7 linked regions of the Homo sapiens genome follow. The protein of the gene in region 5 purifies or fractionates together with the protein of the main gene of each other region. This does not show direct contact. Each region holds a gene or a part of one and is shown on either strand. Other genes may lie near its edges.

Evidence for each region.
Region 1: the proteins of KIR3DL2 (region 5) and ST7L purify together in Homo sapiens (affinity purification with mass spectrometry; 2 studies listed by BioGRID and IntAct, with this or other methods). This does not show direct contact.
Region 2: the proteins of KIR3DL2 (region 5) and TRIM13 purify together in Homo sapiens (affinity purification with mass spectrometry; 2 studies listed by BioGRID and IntAct, with this or other methods). This does not show direct contact.
Region 3: the proteins of KIR3DL2 (region 5) and IVD purify together in Homo sapiens (affinity purification with mass spectrometry; 2 studies listed by BioGRID and IntAct, with this or other methods). This does not show direct contact.
Region 4: the proteins of KIR3DL2 (region 5) and PLXNA2 purify together in Homo sapiens (affinity purification with mass spectrometry; 2 studies listed by BioGRID and IntAct, with this or other methods). This does not show direct contact.
Region 6: the proteins of KIR3DL2 (region 5) and KCTD10 purify together in Homo sapiens (affinity purification with mass spectrometry; 2 studies listed by BioGRID and IntAct, with this or other methods). This does not show direct contact.
Region 7: the proteins of KIR3DL2 (region 5) and PDLIM4 purify together in Homo sapiens (affinity purification with mass spectrometry; 2 studies listed by BioGRID and IntAct, with this or other methods). This does not show direct contact.

The regions. Positions count from the first base shown.
Region 1 is NC_000001.11:112,528,642-112,532,141, forward strand, and holds part of ST7L (suppressor of tumorigenicity 7 protein-like), read right to left. Parts: intron 1,525-3,500; exon of another isoform or gene 1-1,524.
Region 2 is NC_000013.11:50,003,542-50,007,041, reverse strand, and holds part of TRIM13 (E3 ubiquitin-protein ligase TRIM13), read right to left. Parts: intron 1-3,500. UniProt on the Homo sapiens protein: Endoplasmic reticulum (ER) membrane anchored E3 ligase involved in the retrotranslocation and turnover of membrane and secretory proteins from the ER through a set of processes named ER-associated degradation (ERAD).
Region 3 is NC_000015.10:40,404,299-40,408,594, reverse strand, and holds the start of IVD (isovaleryl-CoA dehydrogenase, mitochondrial isoform 1 precursor), read right to left. Parts: upstream 2,801-4,296; 5' UTR 2,777-2,800; coding exon of another isoform or gene 2,768-2,776; coding exon 2,624-2,767; exon of another isoform or gene 2,341-2,623; coding exon of another isoform or gene 2,245-2,340; intron 960-2,244; coding exon 870-959; coding exon of another isoform or gene 783-869; intron 657-782; coding exon 605-656; intron 1-604.
Region 4 is NC_000001.11:208,041,885-208,045,384, forward strand, and holds part of PLXNA2 (plexin-A2 precursor), read right to left. Parts: intron 3,327-3,500; coding exon 3,183-3,326; intron 2,859-3,182; coding exon 2,624-2,858; intron 1,320-2,623; coding exon 1,177-1,319; intron 483-1,176; coding exon 214-482; intron 1-213. UniProt on the Homo sapiens protein: Coreceptor for SEMA3A and SEMA6A. Necessary for signaling by SEMA6A and class 3 semaphorins and subsequent remodeling of the cytoskeleton. Plays a role in axon guidance, invasive growth and cell migration.
Region 5 is NC_000019.10:54,849,223-54,853,242, reverse strand, and holds the start of KIR3DL2 (killer cell immunoglobulin-like receptor 3DL2 isoform 1 precursor), read right to left. Parts: upstream 2,801-4,020; 5' UTR 2,768-2,800; coding exon 2,734-2,767; intron 2,024-2,733; coding exon 1,988-2,023; intron 1,246-1,987; coding exon 961-1,245; intron 1-960. UniProt on the Homo sapiens protein: Receptor on natural killer (NK) cells and T cells for MHC class I molecules. Upon binding of peptide-free HLA-F open conformer, negatively regulates NK and T cell effector functions. Acts as a receptor on astrocytes for HLA-F.
Region 6 is NC_000012.12:109,467,301-109,470,800, forward strand, and holds part of KCTD10 (BTB/POZ domain-containing adapter for CUL3-mediated RhoA degradation protein 3), read right to left. Parts: intron 2,429-3,500; coding exon 2,215-2,428; intron 1-2,214. UniProt on the Homo sapiens protein: Substrate-specific adapter of a BCR (BTB-CUL3-RBX1) E3 ubiquitin-protein ligase complex. The BCR(BACURD3) E3 ubiquitin ligase complex mediates the ubiquitination of target proteins, leading to their degradation by the proteasome.
Region 7 is NC_000005.10:132,264,196-132,267,695, reverse strand, and holds part of PDLIM4 (PDZ and LIM domain protein 4), read right to left. Parts: intron 1,233-3,500; coding exon 1,151-1,232; intron 1-1,150.

The sequences.
Region 1 (3,500 bases), on a different chromosome or scaffold from region 5:
AACCTGGCATAAATCAAGCCAAACCCTTAAGAAATTAGAATGTGAAAAGAAAATAATTTAAAATAGAAAATACATGCTGCTTTTCCTCACTCCCAAACTTAAAACTTGACTGGTCCTACATATTCTACTTGGTATATTGAATTTTTGCAGCTAGCAGATTTATCGTATCTGAGGCCATAGTGAATAGAAGAGCTGCAAAAGAGCTTTAGAGACTGCAAAACCAGCTCACTAATAAATGAGGAACTTTATTCTAATTTACTACCAGGGGCTGAAGTAGCAGCCAAAGAAGGAGACAAATTCTAACTTCATGATCTCTAGTTAGGTGTCTATTTTCCTGCATTTGCTAAAGGTAAAAATCGCTACTTATGGGGCTTTTGTCATACTTCTTAACCAAACTTCCCTAACTTCTGAGGATAAAAACCATAAGGGCAATCTTATTCTTCCAAAGCAGTTCCCTGGTGCCACTTTCAGAAACAGAGTATTGAACTATGGGTCTGACCCAGTGTGGCACTGAGTGTGTGTGTGTTTGTGTGTTTGTGTGTGTGTGTACACTGAATAAGCCAAAACGTGTGCCATATTCTAGGTTTCTGCTTTACTTAACTGGCAAAATTTGGTGCTGTAAGGGAGGCAGCCACAAAACCAGTGATAGCATTTGTTAGTATCATCTTAGTTCTCTTCCCTCCCCTAGGTAGTTTATAAAGGGTGATTTCTGAAACCCTTCACAAAAGAAAAGCTCAAGGGTTTACATTCAACTGTGACAGCACTATGAATTCATTAAGAAGCATGTTTCAGGTTGCACTGTAATTTCCCTATGTAATACAAACCCATGGAATCTGACATAAGCTGATTGCTCATGCTGGTTGTTTTATTTACATTTCTGAATGGAAAGGATTTCAATACTCATAAAATATCTAACTGGCTTATTTTTCATCTGTTCTCCCAGAGAAGCTATTATAAGATAGGCATAGAGACAGAAGTCTCAACTTGTATAACTGGTTAAGCAACCAGGGAAATGTTATTGCTCAAAATGCAATTTTAAAAAATTCAATATGGAACTTGAGGCCAAAAAAACAGAAGGTTACTCTCAATGCCATCCAAAAGATAAAAGTTAAAAAAAAAAAAAAAAAAAAAGGTAACTATGCTCATTATTTTCAACCAAGTTCTATGGAGGTGGTACCTTCACAGGAGCTCAGTGGAACTGGGGTTTACTTACATCTTTTTTCTGGGAACCTAATGTTAGCAGACACAGTTGCTAGTTTGAACAGGAATGCAGATGAATGGATGAAAGTGGGCTCCCTACCACCCAGAAATATGAATGTGCCTCCTTACCAATATGCTACAAATCAGACCTCTGAATTAGAAGATGCCATCATGCAACTAACTTACTATCTGGAGATGTGTATTTTGTTAACCTAGGCAAAGAATAACAATTTCTGCTTATTCCAGTAGGTGTGACAAGCTCAGAGAAGTGAGCGACAAGCTAGAGAAGTAATAATTACCAATAAAGTAAATTCCAAAGCCGAATCCCCAGTTTTCTGCCTCCAAGTTGTTGTTCAAATAGTTTATCTTCCTTTCTTCTACTGCAACACTAGTTTAATCAGTACATTCTACAACTCTCTAGTATTATTATAATATTTGCATGAGTAGTTTAGAATTTAGCCTTGGGCCTGCTCTTCTACCATTTTACCATATTTACTGATTACATTTTACCATATTTTACCATATTTACTGATTACATGCCTAATTTGTATAAACTCAAGGAGAGGTTCTGTGCCTTTTTGTTTGTTTTTTGAGATGGATTCTCGCTCTGTCACTAGGGCTGGAGTGCAGTGGCGTGATCTTGGCTCACTGCAACCTTCGCCTCCCAGGTTCAAGCAATTCTCCTGCCTCAGCCTCCTGAGTAGCTGGGATTACAGGCGCCTGCCACCACATCAGGCTAATTTTTGTGTTTTTAGTAGAGACAAGGTTTCACCATGTTGGCCAGGCTGGTCTCAAACTCCTGACCTCAGATGATCTACCCACCTCGGCCTCCCAAAGTGTTGGGATTACAGGAGTGAGCCACCGCACCCAGCCTCTGTGCCTATTTTAAAACATATATCCCAAAGTCATATCCCCAGTGATCCAGCTAGTCTGTTACTTTAATGAGACAGCTCAATAAAGATAGGAAATATTTTTTCAGTTACTTAAAGAGAAAATAATACTGGTGGTTCTCCCTGTAAAGAGGTAGAATTGCCAAAAAATGCAGAATTGATCAGCAAAACCCAGCTATAAAGAAAGGGCAAAAGGAACTTTATTTTAGTGCCTTATCCCAATATCCTTTTATTTAGTTTTTTGATTAACATGATGTGTGCCTATTTTCAGAATCAGTGACTGCCAGCTGCAGCTCTTGACATTATCAAGTGAGCTCTGGAAAATTCTGGGTAGCTCTTTCCTATTCTCTCACATGCCCAAAGAACTAAGTAATTTTGGTCCTAACTCTTACTATTCTATTCTTCTTCACATGAAATCACATTGTTTCATACTGAAAACCAGGATGGCTATTAGTTCTTATTAATCTGTCATTATTAGGAATGAGAGGATATAAAAGAGGTATATAAAATGTATGAGTGTAGAGCTTTTGTCTAAGGCAATTACTCTGTGAATCTGAGGTGAGACATTTCTTAAATTTTGAATTGTGGAGCTCTCCATTTTTTGATAAATTATATTCATATAAACATTATAATAAATAACACTGCTTACAAAAAGATGAATTCCAGCTGCTGAGTATAAAGATGAAAGTACTCCACATCACATATTTGGAAAAGAATAAAGATATCTCTTTCTATATGTTCTTGCTTGACCTAACCGAATAAATTCTTCTGAAAGGAAGCATAATCTATTAGTCTAGACTGACCTTTTGGGTCACTATATCTTACGGGAGCCGTGTGAAAATAACTCACCATTCCCTTCCAGTCAAATAAATGAATATTCAAGGATGAACTCATCTATTGTGGCAATAGCTTCCACCTTATACTAATACATCTTCATGCCCATCTCAAACCCCCTACCACTAGACTATGAGTTACTTATGAACAGGGATTATATTTTATACTTCACAGGTACCCAATGAATTTGAAATGCAAAGACCTGTTATATGTTATAGGACAATCATTACCATATTTTAGCATGTTATAGGACAATTAAAACCATGTTTTAATTTGCTGAGGCTCTTTACAAATCTAAACTTTGAAAACAAATCAAGACAGGCCCTATTGGAGTCCTTCCATTCAATAAGCCAACATTCAAAGAAGACTCTTTTCAGGTTATCCAGGACTCTCTGAACTGCATGTTCTACTGCAGTTTTTGTTTTTTGTTTTTTAAAGGTGGTATTACAAGAGCTAAAATTCACCAAGGGCAAATTAGTAAGAAAAGTCTTCACAGCTAGGGCTTAGCCAAATTAGAATCCCTGGGCTCGCAATAAGGGCTAAACCCCTAAAGGGATCAGAGTCTAATAAATAAAA
Region 2 (3,500 bases), on a different chromosome or scaffold from region 5:
CCCAGCTAACTTTTGTATTTTTTGCTGGAGACAGGGTTTCACCATGTTGCCCAGGCTGGTCTCAACCTCCTGACCTCGGGTGATCCGCCCACCTCAGCCTCCCAGAGTGCTGGGATTACAGGTGTGAGCCACCACGCCCAGCCAGTTTATGGTTTTATAGTAGATTGTAAGATACATGTATTTATAATACATAACATAGGGAGAACTAAAGCAAAGATTATTCTGTCTCAAATTTAGTGTCATATTGCAAAAAAAGGTGTAATTAGCTGATTTTTCTGAAAAATCCTTTGTGATATGACAAATCATATAACCTCTGAAAAGCATTGGAAAGAGAATGGCTATAAAGACTCAACTTAGTTTGTCTTCTGAAAGAGATTACCACACAGCTGTAAGACACACAAACTTTCAGAACAATGAAGTCAAACTTTTGATGATCTGCCAACCCCAGTCCTGCTCCACACTTTTCACTTCCATTACTATCATCTTTTGCCTAAGAATTCTACACAAAGGCCAGATTTTTGAGAAGGCAATAGAAACAGGAAAGTGGTAAGGGCAACACTCAATAAAAGAAACCTAATTTACTCATCCTTGCAATGTTAATACTTCCAGAGAATACTATCCAAGCATATTAAATAAGAAGAAAACAAAGAATATACCAAGTGATTGGGTGGGATGAGGAGGAGAAAAAGGGCACCAAAGGCAAAGAGAAACTATGAAGAAAATTGAGGATACAACGACAGGGGCCAAGAAGAATTTTCAGGCAAACAAATGTGATCAAAAGTGAAAAGGAAAATGTCACACACAGGAAAACTTAGAAATAATAAACAGTCATCCCAAGGTCATGATCAACATACAGCTCTTAAAATGAACCAGAGGGGAAAAAATACTATTTGGAAAGTATCTTCAAAAAAATTGCATCAAAATTACAATAGATCCTCTAATTTCATTTTTAGTGACTTAACTTACAAATTTTGGTTGATAATTTAAAGATTCTTATTTTCATTCACTTTAAAATCTACATATTTCTGGCCAAGCGCGGTGGTTTACGCCTGTAATCCCAGCACTTTGGGAGGCCGCCGAGGTGGGCAGATGAGGTCGGGAGTTCGAGACCAGCCTGGCCCACATGGAGAAACCCCGTCTCTACTAAAAATACAAAATTAGCCAGGCGTGGTGGCGCATGCCTGTAATCCCAGCTACTCAGGAGGCAGAGGCAGGAGAATCGCTTGAACCCGTGAGGCCAGAGGTTGCCGTGAGCCATGATCGCACAAGAGTGAAACTCCATCACAAAAAAAAAAAAAAAACTAAATATTTCCTTTTCTCTTCTTCCTTTCTTCCTTTAGTTTTATGCCTTCTCTCTTTTTTTTTTAGAGATGGAGTCTTGCACTGTTGCCCATGCTGGAGTGCAGTGGTGTAATCACAACTCACTGCAACCTCCGCCTCCTGGGTTCAAGTGATTCTCCTGCCTTAGTCTCCCCGAGTAGCTGGGATTACACGCGCCTACAACCATGCCAGGCTAATTTTTGTATTTTTAGTAGAGACAGGGTTTCGCCATGTTGGCCAGGCTGATCTCGAACTCCTGACCTCAGGTGATCCACCCGCCTCGGCCTCCCAAAGTTCTGGGATTATAGTTGTGAGCCACCATGCCCTGCCTATGCCTTCTCTTTATAATCAAAACTTTCTCTAAGACAAAACTATGTGACCACTTCCACAAGTGACTAATACCTGATCCAAGAAACCATGGTAGACATCTTTGTTGCCTCCAAAGTTTTGAAGGATAATTTAAGTTAAAGCCTTTAATATCATAAATAAAAGGTACTCTTCACAGCAAAATAACTTACAAAATCTTAAAGTATGGCTAACACAAAATCTGAAGTAATCAACCCAGCTTACTCCTTTGACATGAACAAAAAAGGATACATCCCCTCCACCTCTTTTTCGGGGTTTCTGGTTGTTTTTTTTTCTTTTGAGAGGGAGTCTCGCTCTTGTTACCCAGGCTGGAGTGCAATGGCACCATCTCGGCTCACTGCAACCTCTGCCTCCTGGGTTCAAGCGATTCTCCTGCCTCAGCCTCCTGAGTAGCTGGGATTACAGGTGCCCGCCACCACACCCGGCTAATTTTTGTATTTTTAGTAGAGACAGGGTTTCACCATGTTGGTCAGGCTGGTCTCAAACTCCTGACCTCAGGTAATCCGCCCTCCTTGGCCTCCCTAAGTGTTGGGATTACAGGCGTGAGCCACCGCACCTGGCCCTTTTTTTTTTTTTAAGACAGGGTCTCGGGCTGTCACCCAGACTGAAGTGCAGTGGCGCCATCTTGGCTCACTGGCAACCTCCCCACCAGCAACCTCTGCCTCCTAGGCTCAAGCAATTCTCTTGCGTCAGCCTCCCGTGTAGCTCGGATTACAGGCATGCACCACTACCACCTGGCTAATTTTTGTGTTTTTAGTAGAGACAGGGTTTCATTATGTTGGCCGGGCTGGTCTTGAACTCCTCACCTCAAATGATTCACCTGCCTCAGCCTCCTAAAGTGCTGGGATTACAGGCGTGAGCCAGTGTGCCCAGTCTGTTTTGTTGTTTTTTTTGAGGGAGTATCACTCTGTTGCCCAGGCTGGAATGCAGTGACCCTAACACAGCTCACTGTAGCTTTGACCTCCCCAGGCTCAGGTGATCCTCCCACCTCAGCCTCATGAGTAGCTGTAAGGTACTACAGGTACATGCTACCATTCCCAGTTAATTTTTGTACTTTTTTTGTATAGATGATGTTTCAGCATGTTGCCCAGGCTGGTCTCAAACTCCTGAGCTCAAGCAGTCGGGACTCAGCCTCCCAAAGTGCTGATTATACAGGCAAGAGCCACTGCACTTGGCCTCAAGCTAGTTTTTTTCCTAATATAGAAGTCAAAAAACTTTATGTAAACAAAATTATTATTCACTGTTCAAATTTCAACTTAAAGTCAGATTAAGCACATAAAGGCAAACAAGTTTTCCAAAATTCATCTCTTCCTTTGAATATTTCTGAATACTTAGAAAAGTCTTAAATTTTGAAGCACAAATACCAATTAAAAACTTCCCAAATGTTTTATACCAACAATTTTAAAAGCTGACAACTTTTTAAAGTATCCAGAAAGGTGGTAGTAGACACTAGTTGCGGAAAAAAGTCAAACTTGTTCTCCTGCCATATTGATGTTTTCTAACATACTTTTAAATTTACATACAATGAAATTCACTTTTTGATTTACAGTTTTATTTTTAACAAAGTTGCATACCACCACTATGAGTTTATTTTTTTGAACAAATTGTCAAGCTATCCACAAAGAAGAAGGATTACAAAAAGTGCTTTATGAATCCTACCTCAATTAGTATCTGGCAACAACAGCTTCTATAAATGAGAACCATAACACAACCACTAAAATAATAAAAATGGAAAAGCCAATACTTACAAAGTAAACGTGTCATAATAGAGTTTATATATATGTATTGGACTTCTTCCTTCTAGAATTCTTTTA
Region 3 (4,296 bases), on a different chromosome or scaffold from region 5:
CCTGCTAGCTCCCTGCCTTCTCCCTCCGGACAGCCTATTAAACACATCATCTGGCCACCTCACCTGGAAGCCCAGATAGACATCTCTCTCCCCTGCCCAGCCCCTACCCTACTCCCCCCGCTATCTGCTCCCAAATGAGCTCCAAGGTTTAAGCAGAAGAGGACACAGGCAGTCCCTGCAGGGACACACCTGCCCAGAGTGTTCCTGCCGAGAGGCCACTGGTAGGACAAAGCTTATAGGGATTAGGGGAGGCAGTAAGACTGAGGTACTATGAAGACAACCACTTGATCCAGAGTTTTCTAAACTTCCCAAATCACCTGGGTGAGCCTATTAAGTATGCAGAGTTCAAGAGTTGGACTGATCCTGATCCAAGTGAGCCACAATGACCTAATTAATCCCTCTGCCTTCTCTACATCACTGTCTAATAAAATAGAAGAGTGTCCTGTTCTCTGGGCTGACAATCAATGGGTGCTTTCACAGGTCCAAAAGATGCAGTTCTGGGTTTCTTTAAGCACAATCTTTCCCTTCCCTTCCTGCTTCTTTTGGGAACTGTCTTAAAGGGCACATAAGAAAAGTTCTTTTTAGGGAAAGACACTATACTCACCAGGGGCTGTGATGCCCAATACGCCCAGGTTCCCCAGCTGCTTCCAAAATTCCTGCCAACAGAATGGAGCAGAGTGGAATAAGTGTTGAGGGGAAGGCAGCCAGTCACATGTGGCTGGAACAATGAGACCCAAACACTTCAGAGAGAGGGGCTGCATTCTTAGAGAGGCTTCATTTACCAGAAAACTGTGTGAGCTCTTCCAGGCAGCAGTGCAGCTCAGCCCCACTCCCTGACTGCCCCCGACTGCCCGGACCTCCCAACTCACTCGCAGGTTCTTGAACTCATTGCTGCGATCGATCTCCTGGGCCTTGGGGGCCAGGTGCTCCTGAAGGAACTTAGCCATGGTCTGACGAAGCTAATAGGAGAGAGGTAAACAGATGCCACTGCAGACAGCATCTCCACTACCCAGACACATTCAAGAGAAAAGGCCACAAGTAACTTCCCCAAACAGCATCAGACTGAAACTGAGAGGCCTCAGTAGTTTATGCCTCCTCAGAGATGATCTTCACCCCTCTTTCTTAAGGTCTTCAGCCTAGACAGCTTGATGGTAATTTTTAAAACGTCACACTTTACATAAAAATCATTCCATTGGTTTCCACTGTACTTAGAATAAAACACAAGCTTCTCACCCAGGCCTACTAGGCCCTGCAGGAGCTGACCCCAGCTGACTCTCCTAGCTTCCCCAGCACCTTCCCACCTCCCACCCTCTGTGCTCCAGCTGCATTCCAGGCAGCTGCCAGATCTCAATAGTTGTCAGGCTCTTTTAAGCCCCCGAACCTTTGGCTAAAAGGGTCTGATTACCCAAAGAGATTAGAAACGCCTCTTGGCGGCTGGGCATGGTGGCTCATGCCTGTAATCCCAGCACTTTGGGAGGCCGAGGCAGGAGGATCACCTGAGGTTGGGAGTTTGAGACCAGCCTGACCAACATGGAGAAACTCCGTCTCTACTAAAAACACAAAATTAGCCGGGCGTGGTGGTGCATGCCTGTAATCCCAGCTACCTGGGAGGCTGAGGCAGGAGAATCACTTGAACCCGGGAGGCGGACGTTGTGGTGAGCGGAGATCGCGCCATTACACTCCAGCCTGGGCAACAAGAGTGAAACTCCGTCTCAAAAAAAAAAAAAAAAGAAAAAAGAAAAGAAACTCCTCTTGCCAGGAAAGCTTGAGAATAGGGATTGAACCCTTTCCACTTGAGGTGGTTCACGGAAGCTCTGAGCGCTCGCTGGCTATAAACATAAACTACGGAGTTGCTGGGAGGCTCATACCTCCGCCAACTCCATCCAGCCTCCAAGTGAAACCTCAGGAAGGACTCTGGTTCTGCTCCATTTGTAAATACTACTTCGTCTTCTTTTCTATTTTTTATGAGATGGGGGTCTGGCTATGTTGCTTAGGCTGATCTCAAACCCCTGAGCTCAAACAATCCTCCCACCTCGGCCTCCCAAAGTGCTAGGATTACAGGTGTGAGCCACGGCGCCTGGCCTCCAACTACTTCTTTCAAGTACTTGTTCAACTTTTGTGTTTTGACCCAATGGGCTGAAGAGCGACAGGAGAGCTCACTGTGGCTTTTTAAAACCCCCAAACTGTTTATACAAAAAAGACTCCCTGGTGATTACGATGACCACCCAGGTGTGAGAAGCATACCTCAGCCTGTTCAGGTGTAAGTGAACTACATACAGATTGAGGGCCCTTGTGCCACAAGCGGTAGGTAGCCTGGCCAATCCTCCACCAAAACACCATCAGTCTCTCAGGAGCTCTCCCAGCCTCGACTCCTCCTCTCTACTTCCAGCAGTACTGTCCCACGGTCTCAAATCTTCACTCCACAGACGTGAGGCCGAGGTCAGAGGACTGGACCCGAGGTCGGAGGCCCCGCGTCCCGCCCCCGCGCTGGCGCTCCCAACGGCCCACGGGCAAAAGCCAAGGCTGGGTGGGCGCTGGGCCGATGGGGACCAGGCAGGAAGGAGGCCTTGGGGACCAGGCAGGAAGGAGGCCTTGGGGCCAGGAAGGGGGTCAGTCTCCTCACCTGCCTCTGCTCCTCGCTTAGCCCATTGATTGCATCGTCCACGGGCAAAAGCGAGTGGGCCCGCTGGGAAACGAAGCCGGCAAGCGGCGGCCGCAGCCTCCAGCTCGCCACACGCCACCCCAGCAGCCGAGTCGCAGTCGCCATCTCTGCCATGCACGAAGAGCCAGCGCTGAAACTGAGCCAGCTCTTAGCTCCACCAATCCAGGCTTCGCCGCCCACCAAACCGGCTAGGGGGTGGGCTGCAGCAGCCAATCACCCTAGGCGGCCCGCCGAAGGCGTTGCTGCCCTTGGACCGCACCCGAGCCAATCAACCGTGATCGCCTGCCAGCTTCCAGCCAGTGCAACGGCCGCAGGCCGAGTGGCCCTGCCCCGAACGCTGCAAATGCTGGCGTGCTCCCTAGGATGAGTGTTTTTAGCGGGGTAGAAGAGCAAGTGTTTTTTTCTTTTTATCTCCCTGCGTTGAAATAGCAGCCCCTAACTGCGGAAATCTCTCTGTGGGAAAGCAGAGTGTGGAAACAGCAATCAGAAAACTGCCCACGTACCCAGTAAATTGGTCAAGCATCTCTGGAATAATTAAGATCGGAAAAGTAGTGCTTGCTCTAACGTGCACACTGATCATAACAGAGTACATCTTGCTTTATTATATAACAAGGTTTGTAGATTTAGATTCATGTTTTATGGGAAAGGGGTTATTAAGGAGTAGCTGCCTTCTAGATTGGAGATGCGCCTCGATTTACAGTGGGGTTACTTCTCGATAAACCCATCATAAATGGAAAATATTGTAAGTCAAAAATGCACTTTGAAAATACACTTAGGCCGGGCATGATGGCTCACACCTGTAATCCCAGCACTTTGGGAGGCCGAGGCGGGTGAGTCACCTGAGGCGGAGAGTTTTAGACCAGCCTGGCCAACATGGAGAAATCCTGTCTCTACTACAAATACAAAAATTAGCTGGGCGTGGTGGTGCATGCCTGTAATCCCAGCTACTCAGGAGGTTGAGGCAGGAGAATCGCTTGAACCCGGGAGGTGGAGGTTGCGGTGAGCTGAGATCACGCCATTGCACTCCAGCCTGGGCAACAAGAGTGACACTCCGTCTCAAAACAGAAAACAAAAAAACACCTAACCTACCAAACATCATAGCTTAGACTAGTGGACCTTAAACGTACTTGGAACACTTATAATAGCTTATAACGGCACAATCATGTAACACAAAGCATATTTTATAAGACAGTGTTAGATATCATTTATTGAATATTGTACAGTTTCTATTCAATGTCTATCACTTTCACACCATCATAAAGTTGAAAAATCTTAAGTTGAACTATTGTAAGTTGGGGACCATTTGTATTTAATATGTGTTAAATATTAAATAGTACATATTTACGTATTATACTATATATTAAATAAGATGTATTAAATAGGCTGGGCATGGTTGCTCATGCCTGTAATCCTAGGACTTTGGGAGCTTAGGTGGGAAGATCGCTCGAGGCCAGGAGTCCAAGACCATCCTGTGCAACATAGGGAGACCCTGTCTCCACAAAAAATTTGAGAAAACAAACAACAACAAAAGATGTATTAAATAGTAAATAGTATGTATTTAATACACCAGAATAATAGCAGTCAGGACTTAGAAACACGGGTTCGGGACACAGGGAAAGGAAGAGTGGTGAGGG
Region 4 (3,500 bases), on a different chromosome or scaffold from region 5:
TCACACCTGGGTGACTTCAGACTCTGTAGTCTCCCTGGGCTGAGGGAAAGTCAGATTCTGCCCTGCAGAGACGTGAGGACACAGGCTGCTCTGAATGGGTGCCCCTTCTGGGGAGTGGGCCTTCTCATGCTGCTTGTGGGGCCTGCTATAATGAGGTGCTCTGTCCAGGTTCAGACTCCTGCCACCCTCTCCACCCACTGCTGCGGGCCAGACCTCCGGAGTAGCAGCTTGGGGTGGTTCTTGTTCTCCAGGTTCTTATCGATGAGGTCAGAGAGCAGCTGCTTGAGGACATCAGTGGCATATTCCAGGCGGCCCTGCAGGCCGGTCATGATGAGCGAAGCCACGTTGCCCCGGTCGCGCATGGAGAAACTGCGCTGCAGCTCCAGGGTGCGGATGAAGGTCAGCAGGAACACCTTGTTGTTGATGAGCTGGGCAAAGAGCTTCAGGGCCTTCTCCACGTGCTGCTGCCCGTTTCCTTGTACCTGGGGTGGGGTGTGGTGGAGGCGACGCCCTCAGAGGACAGGCATCGGGCCTCCTACCTGAGGGTCTCACTGAGGGCCTGCTGGCGATGACACTAGCTGTAGGACCCTATGTTTGAGGCCTATAACCAACCCCACCCCATTCCACTCACCCGTGATGATGTAGGAACAGCTGGCTCTAAGGTCGACAGTCTGCTCTGACCTTGCACTGGGCCGGGGAGGCTGGGCTCCATGCGGAGCTCTCAGAGGGGAGGCTGCCTGATTTTCCCAAGGATAGAATAGGAGATGCCCCCTCAAACTTCTTCAGTTTACTAGTCTCCCCTTAATCTCCTCTGCCTGATTTATTATCTTTAGTAAAACAAACCAACAAATGAACAAACAAACCTCATAGAATCCTGTGTCTTTCTTTAAGCCATCTTAAATCCATTTTAGAATGAGGCAGGATCTTAGTTAATTAGTTCAGTCATTAATTAAAAAATGACAAACAATGAGCTTTACCCTGGAACCATCCCAAGGAGCCTGGGTGCCCCCTCAGCCGTAACCTTCCTGATAGCTCTGTTGCTGAGATGCTGTTACAAACTACTGACCCCTCTTCCCTGCTAACCTTACTCAGTACTGCTGAGTCTCATCTGGATTTCCTAGGATACCCTGGGCCTGCATCCCTGCTGGGTGGCTGGGCCCAGGAGGCAGGCATTACCTCCAGCTCCCGCAGGACGGGGTGGTCCTCGATGCCCGGGAACAGGACTCGCATAGCGTAGGTACGATAGTCCAGGTAAGGGATTCCTGAGCGGTCCAGGTCACTGGTCAACTCATTGATATCCGTCTGGAGCTCAGCAAAAGCTATGAGAATAAGCAGACGGAGAGGCTCGTGGGGAAGCCCCAGTCGGGGGAGGAGAAAGAGGGAGAAGAAGTTTGCAAAGGACGAGGGGAGGACCTTTTGTAGAGACTCTGAGGATTACGGGAGTGTGTCTCCAGAGGGCGGGGCTACTCCCAGCTGTTTTTAGGTGGTGGGGAAATGGGTGATTTTTATGTTATTTTCTCCTCTATACTTATCTATAATTTCAAATTTTCTCTTTACATATTACAAGTGTAGTTTCAACAAGGAAAAAAAAGTATCATGATTGGGCCGTTTAGTAAAGATCACGGAGATGCTGGAGGCAGGTGAGAGACCATGGCTGAGGGGGTCCAGCAAAGACCAGAACAGGCAAAGTGCTGCCCTTTTCTAATCAAGGTAATAAATCAAGATGCAAAAGCCTAGGGGAGGTCTGGTCATGAGACGCTCAGCTGAGAGCCGAGTTTGGGAAGGCAAGGGCTTCAGAAGCCTCACCTTGGTGGTGGCACACCTGTCTTCCTGGCTCCTTCCTCTGCCAAACTCACCAGCCCTGTTGCCAGGAGGAACCTTGGCTCCACATGTCCTATTTCCCAGCCCAGCTCTTCCCTGTCATCCAGCAGAGGGCTTGTTTCTGATCTTGACATTTGCAGCAAAAGGAGAAATGTTTTCATTCCTAATTGAGCTGTTTACCCAGAGAGCCTGCCAGGTCCTCAGCCTGAGAGGACGCCAGGTACACTCGTCACCTCGAGGCTGTGGTTGCGTGGGACATGGGAGAAAACACAATCTGCACTCCCACACACGTCCACAGCCAAGGACACCAGCAAGTGGCGGCCTTCAGAGCGCTCAGCCTGCAGCACTGATGGAAAACAAACCCTGGGGGAGATGAGGCAGGTGCTTGTCTGCCTTTGCTGCCGCTGCTCCCACGTGCTGCGAAGACAGTGTGCAGAAAAACAAGAGCTGGACACTCCCATGGGGGATCTAGAGTCTGGGGCTGTGGAGCCTGGGGACTCTGACTGTGGGGACATTGAGGCCCTGAGAGGGAGAAAGTGTTTGCCAGATTGTGGGATGGGTCAGGGCAAAGAAGGGACTAGAACAATGCAATTGGACCTGGGTCCTCATGCAGTGGGCATTCTTCATTGGACATCTCTGACCCTATAAGCAAAAGAAGTTCTGGGAAAACAGGGGTGAAAGTGGAATGCAGAGGCATGGCTGGCAGCGATGGGAGTAAAGATAGGAGTTGTCTGCAGGGAGAAGGGCAATAAGGCAGGTGGAGAAAGAGGGACCCAGCAAATGAGGGTGTGCTTCCACTAACCTTCCTTGCACTCCAAGGCCACACGGGACTCCAGATTGTCCATCTGCATTTGCAGCCGCTTGAGAGTGAGGTCATTTTCTCGAGACTTGCGCTTGTAGGCAATGAGGACGATGATGACGATGATGAGGAGGAGGCTGCCGCCGGCCGCGATGCTGACGATGGCTGGCAGGGTCAGCAAGCTGTCTGAGATGACACTCACCGAGCCAGGCGAGAACACCATCCCGCCCACGTGAACCTGTGCATTGTACACATACAGACGCACATGGATGCACACAGGTGTAGAGCCCGGGCATGCCAGCAGATCCTTACAGTGCGAGGAAGGACATGACAGACCACAACCACACAGTGCAGCTCTAGATAAAAAGCAATTTCCTGCCTCGGCATCTGCCTTTCTTTTCTTGTGTTCTCAGCTTATACCCAATTTGATGTAGGACCCAGAGATGAGGAGATATGGAGGGGGTGAGTCAGGCAACGAGACAGAAGAGAGCCTTTCCTTAGGACAGATCACACATGCACCACGAGGCGGGAAGGAGGCATTACAGACGCAGGGCTCACTCACCATGACCTTGTGCTGCCCGGTGAGGTTGGGAGGCTCGCAGAGAAGCTGGGTCTCAGATACGGTGACAGCACAAGGGGTCTCTCCGATGAGCACAGTGTAGTTGAGTTTGGCCCCTCCAGAGGCAGGAGGGCAGAGGTTTTTGCCCTGTAGAGAATAGCAGTCTTTATAGGCATAATTGACACATGCACGCACAAGTTAATTGCCTACTTAAAAAGAGATTAAGGAGACGGGGAAGGGCAGCAGTGCAAAAACCAGGAAATGACTCCTTGGCAAGTTTTTGTGGAGGGGACTTCTAACAGCCATGATCTAGAGAGAAAG
Region 5 (4,020 bases):
GGTTCCAGGAGCATCAACCCCTTCCTATGTGGATGGAGCCTGGTGGTGGCATCAGCATCCCACCCTTGCTGATCCCACGGTAGCCAACCTTCTCCTTGTTTGGTTTCTTTAATTAATTGATTAATTAATTTATTTTTGAGACAGTCACTTTTTCACCCAGGCTGGAGTGCAGTGGTGTTGTCTTGGCTCACTGCAACCTCTGCCTCCCCGGTTCAAGTGATTATCTTGCCTCAGCCTCCCCAGTCGTTGGATTACTCGTGCCCACCACCACACCTGGCTATCCTTGTTTGGTTTCCTAGCTTGTCCTTGACCTGGGTTCCTGTGTCGGTTTCCTGTTGCTGCTGCAGAAAATTATCACAAACATGGCAGCAGGAGAGAACACACTGACCCCTTCCACTTCTGGGGACAGAAATTGGATCCAGTTCTCCCTGTGCTGAAATCAAGGCATCTGCAGGGCTGCGTTCCCTCTGGAGACTCAGCAAATCAGTTCTCTTGACTTCTCCAGCCCTTAGAGGCCACCTGCATTCTGTGACTAGTGGCCTTCCTCCACCTTCAAAGCCCACAGTGGCTGATAGCGTCTCCCTCCCACTACACTGCTCTAATCCCCACTCCCCTCTTCCTCCACCTCTCACGCGGACCCTTGTGATTACACTGAGCCCAGCAGGACAGTCCAGGCTGTCTCCCCATCTCAAGGTCAACTCATCAACAACCTGAGCTCCACCTTCCCCTTCAGTCCCCTGCCCTATAACATAAATAGTCACAGGCTCCAGGGTTTACAATGTAGCCATCATTGGCGACAGTTATTCTTCCCACCACAGCACCCATTTCCCCTGTATTCAATCTCCCTTGACCCCAAATACAGTTGGGGCCTGGGTGATGGGACCCTGATGGACACCCCCACCAGAAGCTCTGGGATTCAGGAGGTGGGACAGTGAGAAGCCCAGACAGAAAGCCTCTGACCTGTGACCATGATCACCAGGGGGTTGCTGGGTGCCGACCACCCAGTGAGGGAGTGTGGGCGTGAACCCCGACATCTGTAGGTCCCTGCATGTGCTGGGGTCACAGGGCCCATGATGAAGCTCTCCTGGAATATTCTGCCGTGGAAGATGGGAACGTGGCTTCTGTCTTCTTTGTACAGCATGAAATTGTTAAACCCACGACGATAGTGACACTGAAGAGCCACGTGTCCTCCTCGAGGCACCACAGTGCTGGGCCGGGCAGACAGGAAGGGTTTGTCCTGACCACCTGGGGGAGAAGGAGGCACTGCCTTAGAGAGGAGGATGTGGAGCCACCCCTCCCTCCCTGTGCTCAGAAGATTCTCCCATTTCCGCTTTCTAAGGCTCCTACCACACCTGGGTGCCCAGGGCTACAGGAAGGACCCACCCCACATAGACATGGCGTCTCCCTACAACAAGTGTCAGCTGAGAACTTTGAGCAAGTGCTGAATAAGTGACTCTTACTAGATTTTAATACTGCAAAATTACTCACATAAAACAACACAAAGTAGACACGGCATGGAGGGCATGTCCTATGTGAATGGAATATCAGCCAATTCATGAACTGAGCCCCCTCAGAGGATTTGGAATGTCAGGGCCATGGCTGTGGTTTCCCCCCTCTTCTGGTAGAAAGACCGCAGCCACACTGCAGCCCCTACCGTCACGGAAACGCTGGAGGGTGTCAGTTATACCTTTGTCCTCAGAGGACCTGCTGTTCCTAGCACTGCTTCCCTCTCTTTCTCTGCTGCTGACACCACTTCCTCCCTGCACACCCCAGCTTGGAGCACCCCAGTCTCACCCCAGTCTTCACAGAGCTTGACTCAGGAAAGGGAAAGAAAGGCCAGGGAGGGCGAGGTCAGAAATGTGGGCCGAGTATCCAAGGGTCCCCTCTTCCTAGTTTATGAGAGACTCCCCGACAGGACTTCCCTCCTGTTTCAGAAAAATCCTCTTATGTGGGGAGATGACACCCTAAGGTTTGGGGACGGACTCACCCATGAGTGGCCAGGCCCCCTGCAGCAAGAAGAACCCTGGAAAGAAAGATCATGATAGACGATCCAACTGCAGGCAAACCAGGGCACCCTGCTGCCCCCACTGCACTGTGTGTCTTGGCAGCCAGGCCCTTGCTGGGCTGAAGGTAAACTTAGCCTCCCTGCTACCTGCTGCCAAGAACAGGGCTCTCAGCTGTGGAGAGACCCAGGCTCCAGGCCCAGATCAACACTTCCTGGCCCAGATCTCCACTCCAGGCCCATATCTCCACTCCAGGCCCCTATCTCCACTCCAGGCCCATATCTCCACTCCAGGCCCATATCTCCACATCAGACCCATATCTCCACTCCAGGCCCAGATCTCCCCTCTAGGCCCATATCTCCACTCCAGGCCCATATCTCCACTCCAGGCCCATATCTCCACATCAGACCCATATCTCCACTCCAGGCCCATATCTCCACTCCAGGCCCAGATCTCCACCTGCAGGCCCATATCTCCACTCCAGGCCCATATCTCCACTCCAGGCCCGTATCTCCACTCCAGGCCCATATCTCCACACCCAGGCCCATATCTCCCCTCCAGGCCCATATCTCCACTCCAGGCCCATATTTACACCTCCAGGCCCATATCTCCACACCCAGGCCCATATCTCCACTCCAGGCCCATATCTCCACTCCAGGCCCATATCTTTACCTCTAGGCCGAGATCTCCATCCCCACTCTCCCTCCCTCTATTCCCTTCCAGGACTCACCAACGCACGCCATGCTGACGACCGTGAGCGACATGGTGCTGCCGGTGCAGACAGGAGGCCGCGCCCCAGCTCAGCTCAGCAGCGCACAGGATGTTATTTGGCGCCCTGCCCATGCAGTTTACATGTTGACCACATCATGGGAGGGTGACGTACGCAGGCTCTTTCTACCTTGCATGAGGCCCAGTGGGTGCTCGCTCAAGAGCGGAACATGGCTTCCTGGAAATTGTTGTGACTACAATTGCCACCTTGCATCCTTCACTATGACCAGACTCAAAAGACGTCTCAGATCCAACCTCTCACACATGAGGTGATTGAATTCTGTGCTTACATTAAAGACTTTTGATGTATTTTTGTTTTTATCTGAGATTCAAACTTTTCTTCATGTGTAATGTGCAAAATATCTAAGAGGTATTATTAACATTATCAGAGTAATTGTGACAAAAAGCCATTCTAATTTTCCTGATGAGTTTCTAGTACTAAACCTGAGGCACGAGAATTGCTTGAACCTGGGAGGCGGAGGCTGCAGTGAGCTGAGCTCAAGCCACTGAACTCCAGCTTGGGTGACAGAGGAAGAGTCTGTCTCAAGAAAGAAAAAAAAAAGCAAACTAAATAACCTATAATAACAAATCAGAGAACTCAGGTTACCAAATTTTAAGGGGTTCTATAAGTTTATATGAAATGCAGCATCCTCATGAGAGGGGATACAGAGAACCACTGGGCAGAAAACTGTGTCTAAAATACATCTGTGGATACACAGTCCCTTTATAGTTGACAAAGGCTGCCATGTAGTTTAAGGTGGAATAGAATATTTTCTCAACAAATAACACAGGACCATAGGGTTACACGTAGGAAAAAATAAATCTAAACTTATCCTCACACTATAAAGACACTTCTTATTTTTTATCTTGTTGTTGTAAACTTTTTATGCTTTATTTTTAAGATTGACAAATAAAAATTATATACTGTGGTCCTTCACTATTCCTGGGTGATTGGTTCCAGGATCCCCATTCAGATACCAAAATCTGCAGATGCTCAAGCCCCTTGCATGAAATGGCATAGCGAAGCTGGGCACCGTGGCTCACGCCTGTAATCCCAGCACTTTGGGAGGCTGAGTTGGGTAGATCACGAGGTCAGGAGTTCAAGACCAGCTGGTCCAACATTCTGAAACCCCGTCTCTACTAAAAATACACACACAAAAAAATTTATCTGTGCATGGTGGCACGTGCCTGTAATCCTAGGGGAGGCTACTGGGGAGGCTGAGGGAAGACAATCGCTTGAACCTGGGAG
Region 6 (3,500 bases), on a different chromosome or scaffold from region 5:
AGGGTTATGGTGAGGATTAAATGAAACAATACCCATCGGCTGTGCGTGGTGGCTCACGCCTGTAATCCCAGCATTTTGGGAGGCTGAGGTGAGAGGATGGCTTGAGCCCAGGAGTTCGAGGCCAGCCTGGGCAACATAGTGAGGCCCCATCTCCAGAAAAAAATTCTAAAAATTAGCTGTGTTTGGTGGTGCATGCCTGTATTCCCAGCTACACAGAAGGCTGAGGCGGGAGGATTGCTTGAACCCAGGAGATGGAGGCTGCCGTGAGCTATGATGGCCCTAGTGCACTTCAGCCTGGGTGACAGAGAAAGACCCTGTCTCAAAAAAAGAGAAAAGAATGCCCCATAAAATGCCATACCATTAGCTTTTCATAATGATATGAAGCAGGGGCTGAGCTCCGGTGACATGAAACAAGTCACAGTTTGCAGTGTCAAAATGACACTGTGTCCCCCGAGAACCTGTGTTTTCCAGGCAGCACCAGGAGAAAAACATCTCATAGCAGGGATTTAGAAGGTGAGCAGTCCTGCCAGTACCACTCGTATGCTCTGTCCAGTCGGGGACAGGGGGACAGAGGAGTCCGTTTCTTTTTTGATATGGCATCAGGCCACCAAGGCGAGGCCTTTCGAGGAGAAGAGCCTCAGCTTTCGAGGCAACTCAGCAGCCTTTCCTGAGCCCCTCCAGAGAGTGGGTAGGGTATGAGAAAAACCACAACAATCCTGGTTCTCAGATAATGCCTGCTTCCTCCAGCAGCGGGGGTGCTATTGTCTTGATTTCCACAGATACTCTCGGGCCATGTGGGGTGTGGCACAGCAAAGAGGATCCTCCCACTCATAAAAAGCTAAGTGTGAGATGGCAGCTTTGGGGCTCCAACCTCAGTTCGCTGCTGCCTGAACAGAAACCGGAGTTCACAGGAAGCAGAACCTCCAGCCCCACACCCTGGCCTTCCCCAGGACACAGAGAGGAATGTCCTCACCAGTGGGTAGCCCAAGCCTCAGCCCTCTTAGGATCAGAGAATTAACTGTGGGACACCAGGCTTAGGTCCCCCAATCCCACCCGCTTATGTGAAAACTCACCCACCCTCCCAAGTCAATGTCCCTGGAAAGGTAGGGCAGCAGCACAGAAGACCAGTCTCAGAAACAGGAAGGCGGGGTCAAGGTCAAGCCAGGCTGTGCCCTGGCCTGGTCTTAAGCAATCTCAGGCCAAGGAATGAAGGATGGTACTATTTTTAAACCTCATGTGACCTGCACGCAAACCCAGCCAGGTAAGGATGGAGCCCTGTTGTCAGGGGCTCTTTGATCATTCCAGGTGAGTAGGAAGTAGTTATGACAATGCCCCTCTCAACAATTCTTTGCCTTTTTTTTTTTTTTTTTGAGACGGAGTCTCGCTCTGTCGCCCAGGCTGGAGTGCAGTGGCGCGATCTCAGCTCACTGCAAGCTCCGCCTCCCGAGTTCACGTCATTCTCCTGCCTCAGCCTCCCGAGTAGCTGGGACTACAGGCACCCACCACCACGCCCGGCTAATTTTTTGTATTTTTAGTAGAGATGGGGTTTCACCTTGTTAGCCAGGATGGTCTCGATCTCCTGACCTCGTGATCCGCCCGCCTCAGCTTCCCAAAGTGCTGGGATTACATGCATGAGCCACTGTGCCCAGCCGATTCTTTGCCTTTTAATAACATGACTTTCCACAAGAAAAAGAAAAACGTGTGTGTGTGTGTGTATATCTATCTATCTATCTACACACACACATATACACACATGCACTGAATACTGACTATGTGCCGATGGCCCCACGGGGGAGGGTATTGTCATGCCCATTTCACCAGAGGAAGAAAATGAGACCAAAAGCTTCGGCCACTTGGTTAGGATCACCAGATACTAATGGGGAGCTGAGACTGAAACCCAGGTTGGCAAGTCTTTGTCAAGACCCCATCTTGGGAGGACAAGGGTCCAGGGAAGATACCTCTCTCTCCCCCAGGCTTGAGTTTCACTCTGAAGTCACAGAAGCATGGCAGAGATAAGCAAGCTAAGCCCTGGGTGAGGAAGTGACTTTCTCAAAGTAACATAGCAAATCAACGACCAAGTCAAGATGGTGGGAGTCCCCAACAAGCTGCCTCCTACACATCTTCAGGTCTCGACTTAAATGTCACTTCTTCAGGGAAGCCCTCCTTGACCACATAACGCATGGCCAGAGGCAGGCACATGGTGGGTGAGCTTACCTTCACTGTCGGTGAGCACTTCCATGCGCCCGCTGAACATGGCCTTCAGCATGGTGTCCTGCTTGGTCAGCGTCTGCATGGTGGTATAGTAGAGGGCTCCACCCACATTCAGCTTCACGTATTTGGAGCTGGGGCTCGTGCCCTTGAAGGAAGTGGTGCGGGTAGCAGCCGCTGGCACCGCTGAGCTCACCACACTTTCTCCTGACATCTCTTCCTGCCAGTGGAGAGGATACAGGGTCATGACATCAGGCCTGGTTGACTGCTTTCAGCCTGTGGATTCAATCTGGCCTCCAGATGTGTTTTGCTTGGGCCACGCATACACAGCATTTAAAAGTTTGCTTCCAATGTGGACAACTAAGGAGAGCTCACAGAAAAATCTGGACTTCTGGCTTCTCCTAAAATCAGAGGCCAACTGGGCTAGCAGGGGAACAACTGGTCAGAGCTGGGGTATTGGATGACCCCTAGAGAGGGCCATGCATCCCCTAGTTTGTCCCAAAACCCACCCAAAAAGCCTCATACACTGACCCTGCCTGTCGACCCTGCAGGCACAAGGGTGCCCCTAACTCTTGTGTTATAAGCACTTCCTTTCTGCCTAGCACCTGTATACATGAACACCCTGGCTGCACCCTAAAACAGCCTAAAGCACTGCCCAGGTCTCTTTACATTTCCTTATTGCCATGTACCACTCAATAGCTAGCTAAGTGTCATTTTTCAGCTGCATCACAGATGAAATAAGCTTTATGAAGTTGAATGGGATTCCAGCTGGCACTCCTATCACTTCCTGTAGGGAGAAGGTGTTTCTGAGGACTAAACAACAGACATGGAAACTTTTGGAACCAAGTTATTGCAAAATTAGACCTCCTAGACTAGTGCTGCCCAAAAGAGCAAGATCCCACTACCATCTCCCTGATAGCATGGCTGACTCTCTGTACATCTCAAAGAAATGGATACAGTGGCTGATTTACGCAGGCCTGGAAAGTGAGATTGGTATCCGGCACATGTGTACTCAGAGCAAACATGTCTGAAATGAACAGGTAAAACTGTAGAGGTGGAGATGTGCAAGGGTGGGCAGAATCTTTGCTGAATCTGGGGTAGCCCCCACGGCTGGCCCTACCATTCCCATTGAACATCAACAGTTTTTCACAGCACATCACCCTCAGACAAGGCCACTCTGTGCCCTTGCGACAAGACAAAAACAGGACCATTCAGTCATCATGTCCGGACACAGACAAAAACATAAACATTATCCAAAATACAAAAATGACCAAAGATCCCCTATCCTGGCT
Region 7 (3,500 bases), on a different chromosome or scaffold from region 5:
TCTTTTCTCTGAACTTGTGGTGCAAGACCTCACCTCTGGGCCACACTTCCTCTCCCTATACCCCTTTGCCTGCCTTACCATTCCTAGCCCTTCAGGTCTTGGCTTCAATACCCCTTCCTCCAGGAAGCACTCCTTGACTCCTTGTCTGAGTCATGTGACTACTCTGGGCTCCTTTGGCCCCTGGCTTCCCCTAGCCCAGAACTTCTAAGTGCCTTTCCCCTGCCAGAATGGGCACTGCCTGGAAGGTGGTAAGCATCTGGCTCCAGGGATGCCAGCCAGGCAGGGTAGGGAATAGAGCAAGATGGGATTGGGGTAGATAGTGAGGGAGAAGCTGGGGCACATCCTTCCCTCTGGTTCAGTGAAGCCTCTCCCTGCCTTGGCCCCTTTTCTTTCATGTTGAGAGGGTGGACAAAGGCAGGCCCAGGAGGCAATGGTCCCACATGCTGGGTCCCATGGTTCTGGCTCCATCACAGACCATCCCAGTCTCCTTGCCCAAACTCTGTGGCCCAGAGATGGCTCTGGATACCTCAGTCATCCCCACTTGGCTACTCCTTATGCCATGGCAAAACAAGGCCCTAGAATAGCCTGACCCCCTCACTCTTCTTGAGGACAGGACCAGAGATATGACTTCTATCACACACAGAAAGGTGACTGGGCAGACAGGCCTGCAGCCTAAGTTCTGCTAGAAGCACCACAGGATGGCCAGGAGAGAACTTCAGGCTTGGATAGGGCACTCAGAGGAGTGTCCCATAGCCTGAGGTCACTCCACAGCCTGAGACTGCCACCAATCTCCCCCGCTGCAAGCACAGTGACTTCTTTCTGGTCTGGCATCACTGAGCACCAGAGTGAACTCCAGCTGGCTGTGTGATAGCCGCAAACCAAGGCCTAGCCCAGATCCTGGACATCATAGGCACCTTGGTCCAGAATCCAGGATTGCCCGGAGTAGAGACAGAGCCCACACCAGGTGCTCATCATCTGAGGAACATGGGATGGGGTATGGATGTGGTCCAGAGAAAACTTCTGCTTCAGTCTCTGTCTTGGGTATCTGAGAGCCCCAGTGAGGACATTCAGTGCAGGTGAACCTGCATGCTGGCCCCTCTGCCCTGGGCTCACTCTGAGCCAGGCCAGGCCAGGCAGTGTCTGTACATACCTGGATCTCAGGATCGATGTGGATCCTGTGTGCCTGAGCCTTGCTGTCATCAGGGGCACTGGGCCAGCTCCTACCCTCAGGCCTGTGGCAGAAATTGTGATGGTCAGATATGTCTCCTACCACGCCCACCATGCCTGGGAGCCAGGATCAAGAGGGGCTGGGCTCTGGGCTGTGCCCTGCAGGTAGAAGAACACCACTCCAGTGCTTTCCCCTGTACCACAATGGTGACTGTTGTGGCAATGAGCCACAACTCTAGCTGCCATCCTCCTGGGGTAGGGCTATATGCTTCTGTCCCCATCGGCTGCCCAATCCCTCTCTAGTCTGGTTCCTGGAGAGGCTGCAGGAGAAGCCCTGTGTCTTCCCTAATCTTCCACCCTCTTCGTGGCCTACAGAAGCTCAGCTCAAAGAGGCCCAGCTTATAGCACTGCAAGCCAGGCCTCACACATTGACCAGCTAGAAGCCTATCCACGCATCCTCTGGGCATCTACAGCCTCTGGTGGGGTGTGGGGTCAGGCGTCCGTCGGCTCTGGGGTAGGTGGAATGGAGGCTCTGAGGGGTGTGTCTTTCCTCCTGCTGCTGCTGCCGGCAGAGTCATCACTGAGTCTGCCCAGCCCAGATGGGAAACAGGCCATTAGGAAATTCCTGCTTCGCCATAGAAACCAAAAGCCAAACACCACTCAGGAGGGAGAAAAACATCATAAACCTGCCATAAGCAGGGCAGGCAGGCCGAGAGGCTACGTGCCTAAGGCCCAGCCCTGTCACTCAGTAGCCCTGTGAGAAGGCAGGCCAGGAAGGGGCATGGACCCTGGACTGGCAGGTGGGTATGAGGTGAGGCTGGTTAGACCAAAGGGGAATAATGCCCTCCAACTCACCCCACGAAGCCTCCTGAGGCTTCTCAAGGTCTCATTACTGACCTAGCAGCTTGCCCCTGCCTCTTCTGCCCCCTTCAGTTGAGGGTTTTAATAATCTATCTATGCCTATGGTCCATACTCACTCTGCACTTCCTCGCCTCTGCCCATTCCTTAGTCCCTTGGAGGCTACCTCTCTACTCCAGGCCTTTGGTATTAGAGCTCTGCTGCCCCAGGGCAACACCAGCCCCATAGTCCCTGTCTCTAGCCCCCTCAACCAGGCTCCCAAGTGGGTACCCTAACTCACAGCTCTAACTGTGGCCTCTATCTACTCAGAACTCCTCTGGGATAAAGCTGGGACATCTTGTGTGGCTATTTGGCCTTCAACTTCCCTGAAGTTCTGCCCAGAAGAGCAGTACAAGCCTGACGTCTAAGGTCGAAGGGCACAAAGTACCCAGAGCCATTAATGTGGCCCAATGCATCAGATCAGAATGAAGGGCTTAATCATGTGTCAACCCCCATCCCAGGCTGGGCTCTTTAAACAAAATGACAGGCAAAGGGTAGGCTGTGCAAAGGTACCTTGGGCCACATGTGATGGACAACAGGGACTCTATCAGTGGCCTCAGTGTTGGAGTTGATGTCAGAAAGGTCCTGGACCTATAGAACATGCCCAGGAAGTGTGATTTTGCTTGGATTGTTGGATGCCTGGCTTTGGGCTCAAAGCAAAAGAAGCCCAGTGGGGAAGCTGGGCCTTTGATACACTTTTCATTCTGTGGGGGAGTTGGTGGGGGGATTAGAGCTCTCTGTACACAAGAGGGCAGATAGGGAAGCTGGTCTGGGGTAGAACCCTGGGAGTGAGAGCACAGGGTAGCTCACTCCAGCCAGCTCAACAGGCTGATTTACTGCAGAGCCCTTGCTGTGTGGGTGTGTGTGGTGGGGGCGGGGAGGAGTGTCGTTGGGGGCCAGGCATAGGTCCTGGCATAGCAGGCAAGATAGGGAGCAGAGTCAGAAAGCTTGCAGGTGGGCAAGTGTCCAGGAGAAGAAATGTTGGCTCAGAAAGTCAAGGTGGCCCTCATGTCTTGATCCCCCAGAGTCTGCATGTGTGAGGGGGCTGCAGGGCAGGACTCAGGTTTTCACTCTGACTGAGCAGGCCTGGTACATCATCACTCAATGTCCAGAGCGCAAGATGGTCCATATTTTTGGTTGAGGAAGTTATGGGCTCAAGAGATTAAATCACTTTCTGGAGCACAGCATAGTTATCTCTCCCTCTCTCTCTTTTATGGGTAAAATTATGAGCATAATTCTCAACCCAGCTCTGTAATAGTAGAGAATGTGCTCTCATCTGCTCCATGGCCAGTGACATTTTGGGGCTGAAATGCTCAGAGTGGAACAGGTCAGTGGACCTCTGGCTCCATCCATGCCTGGTTTGGAACAAAGGACTGGGGAAGGAAGGAAGGAAGGAAGGAAAGAAGGAGGGGGACCTCCACCCCACCACCCTCCGC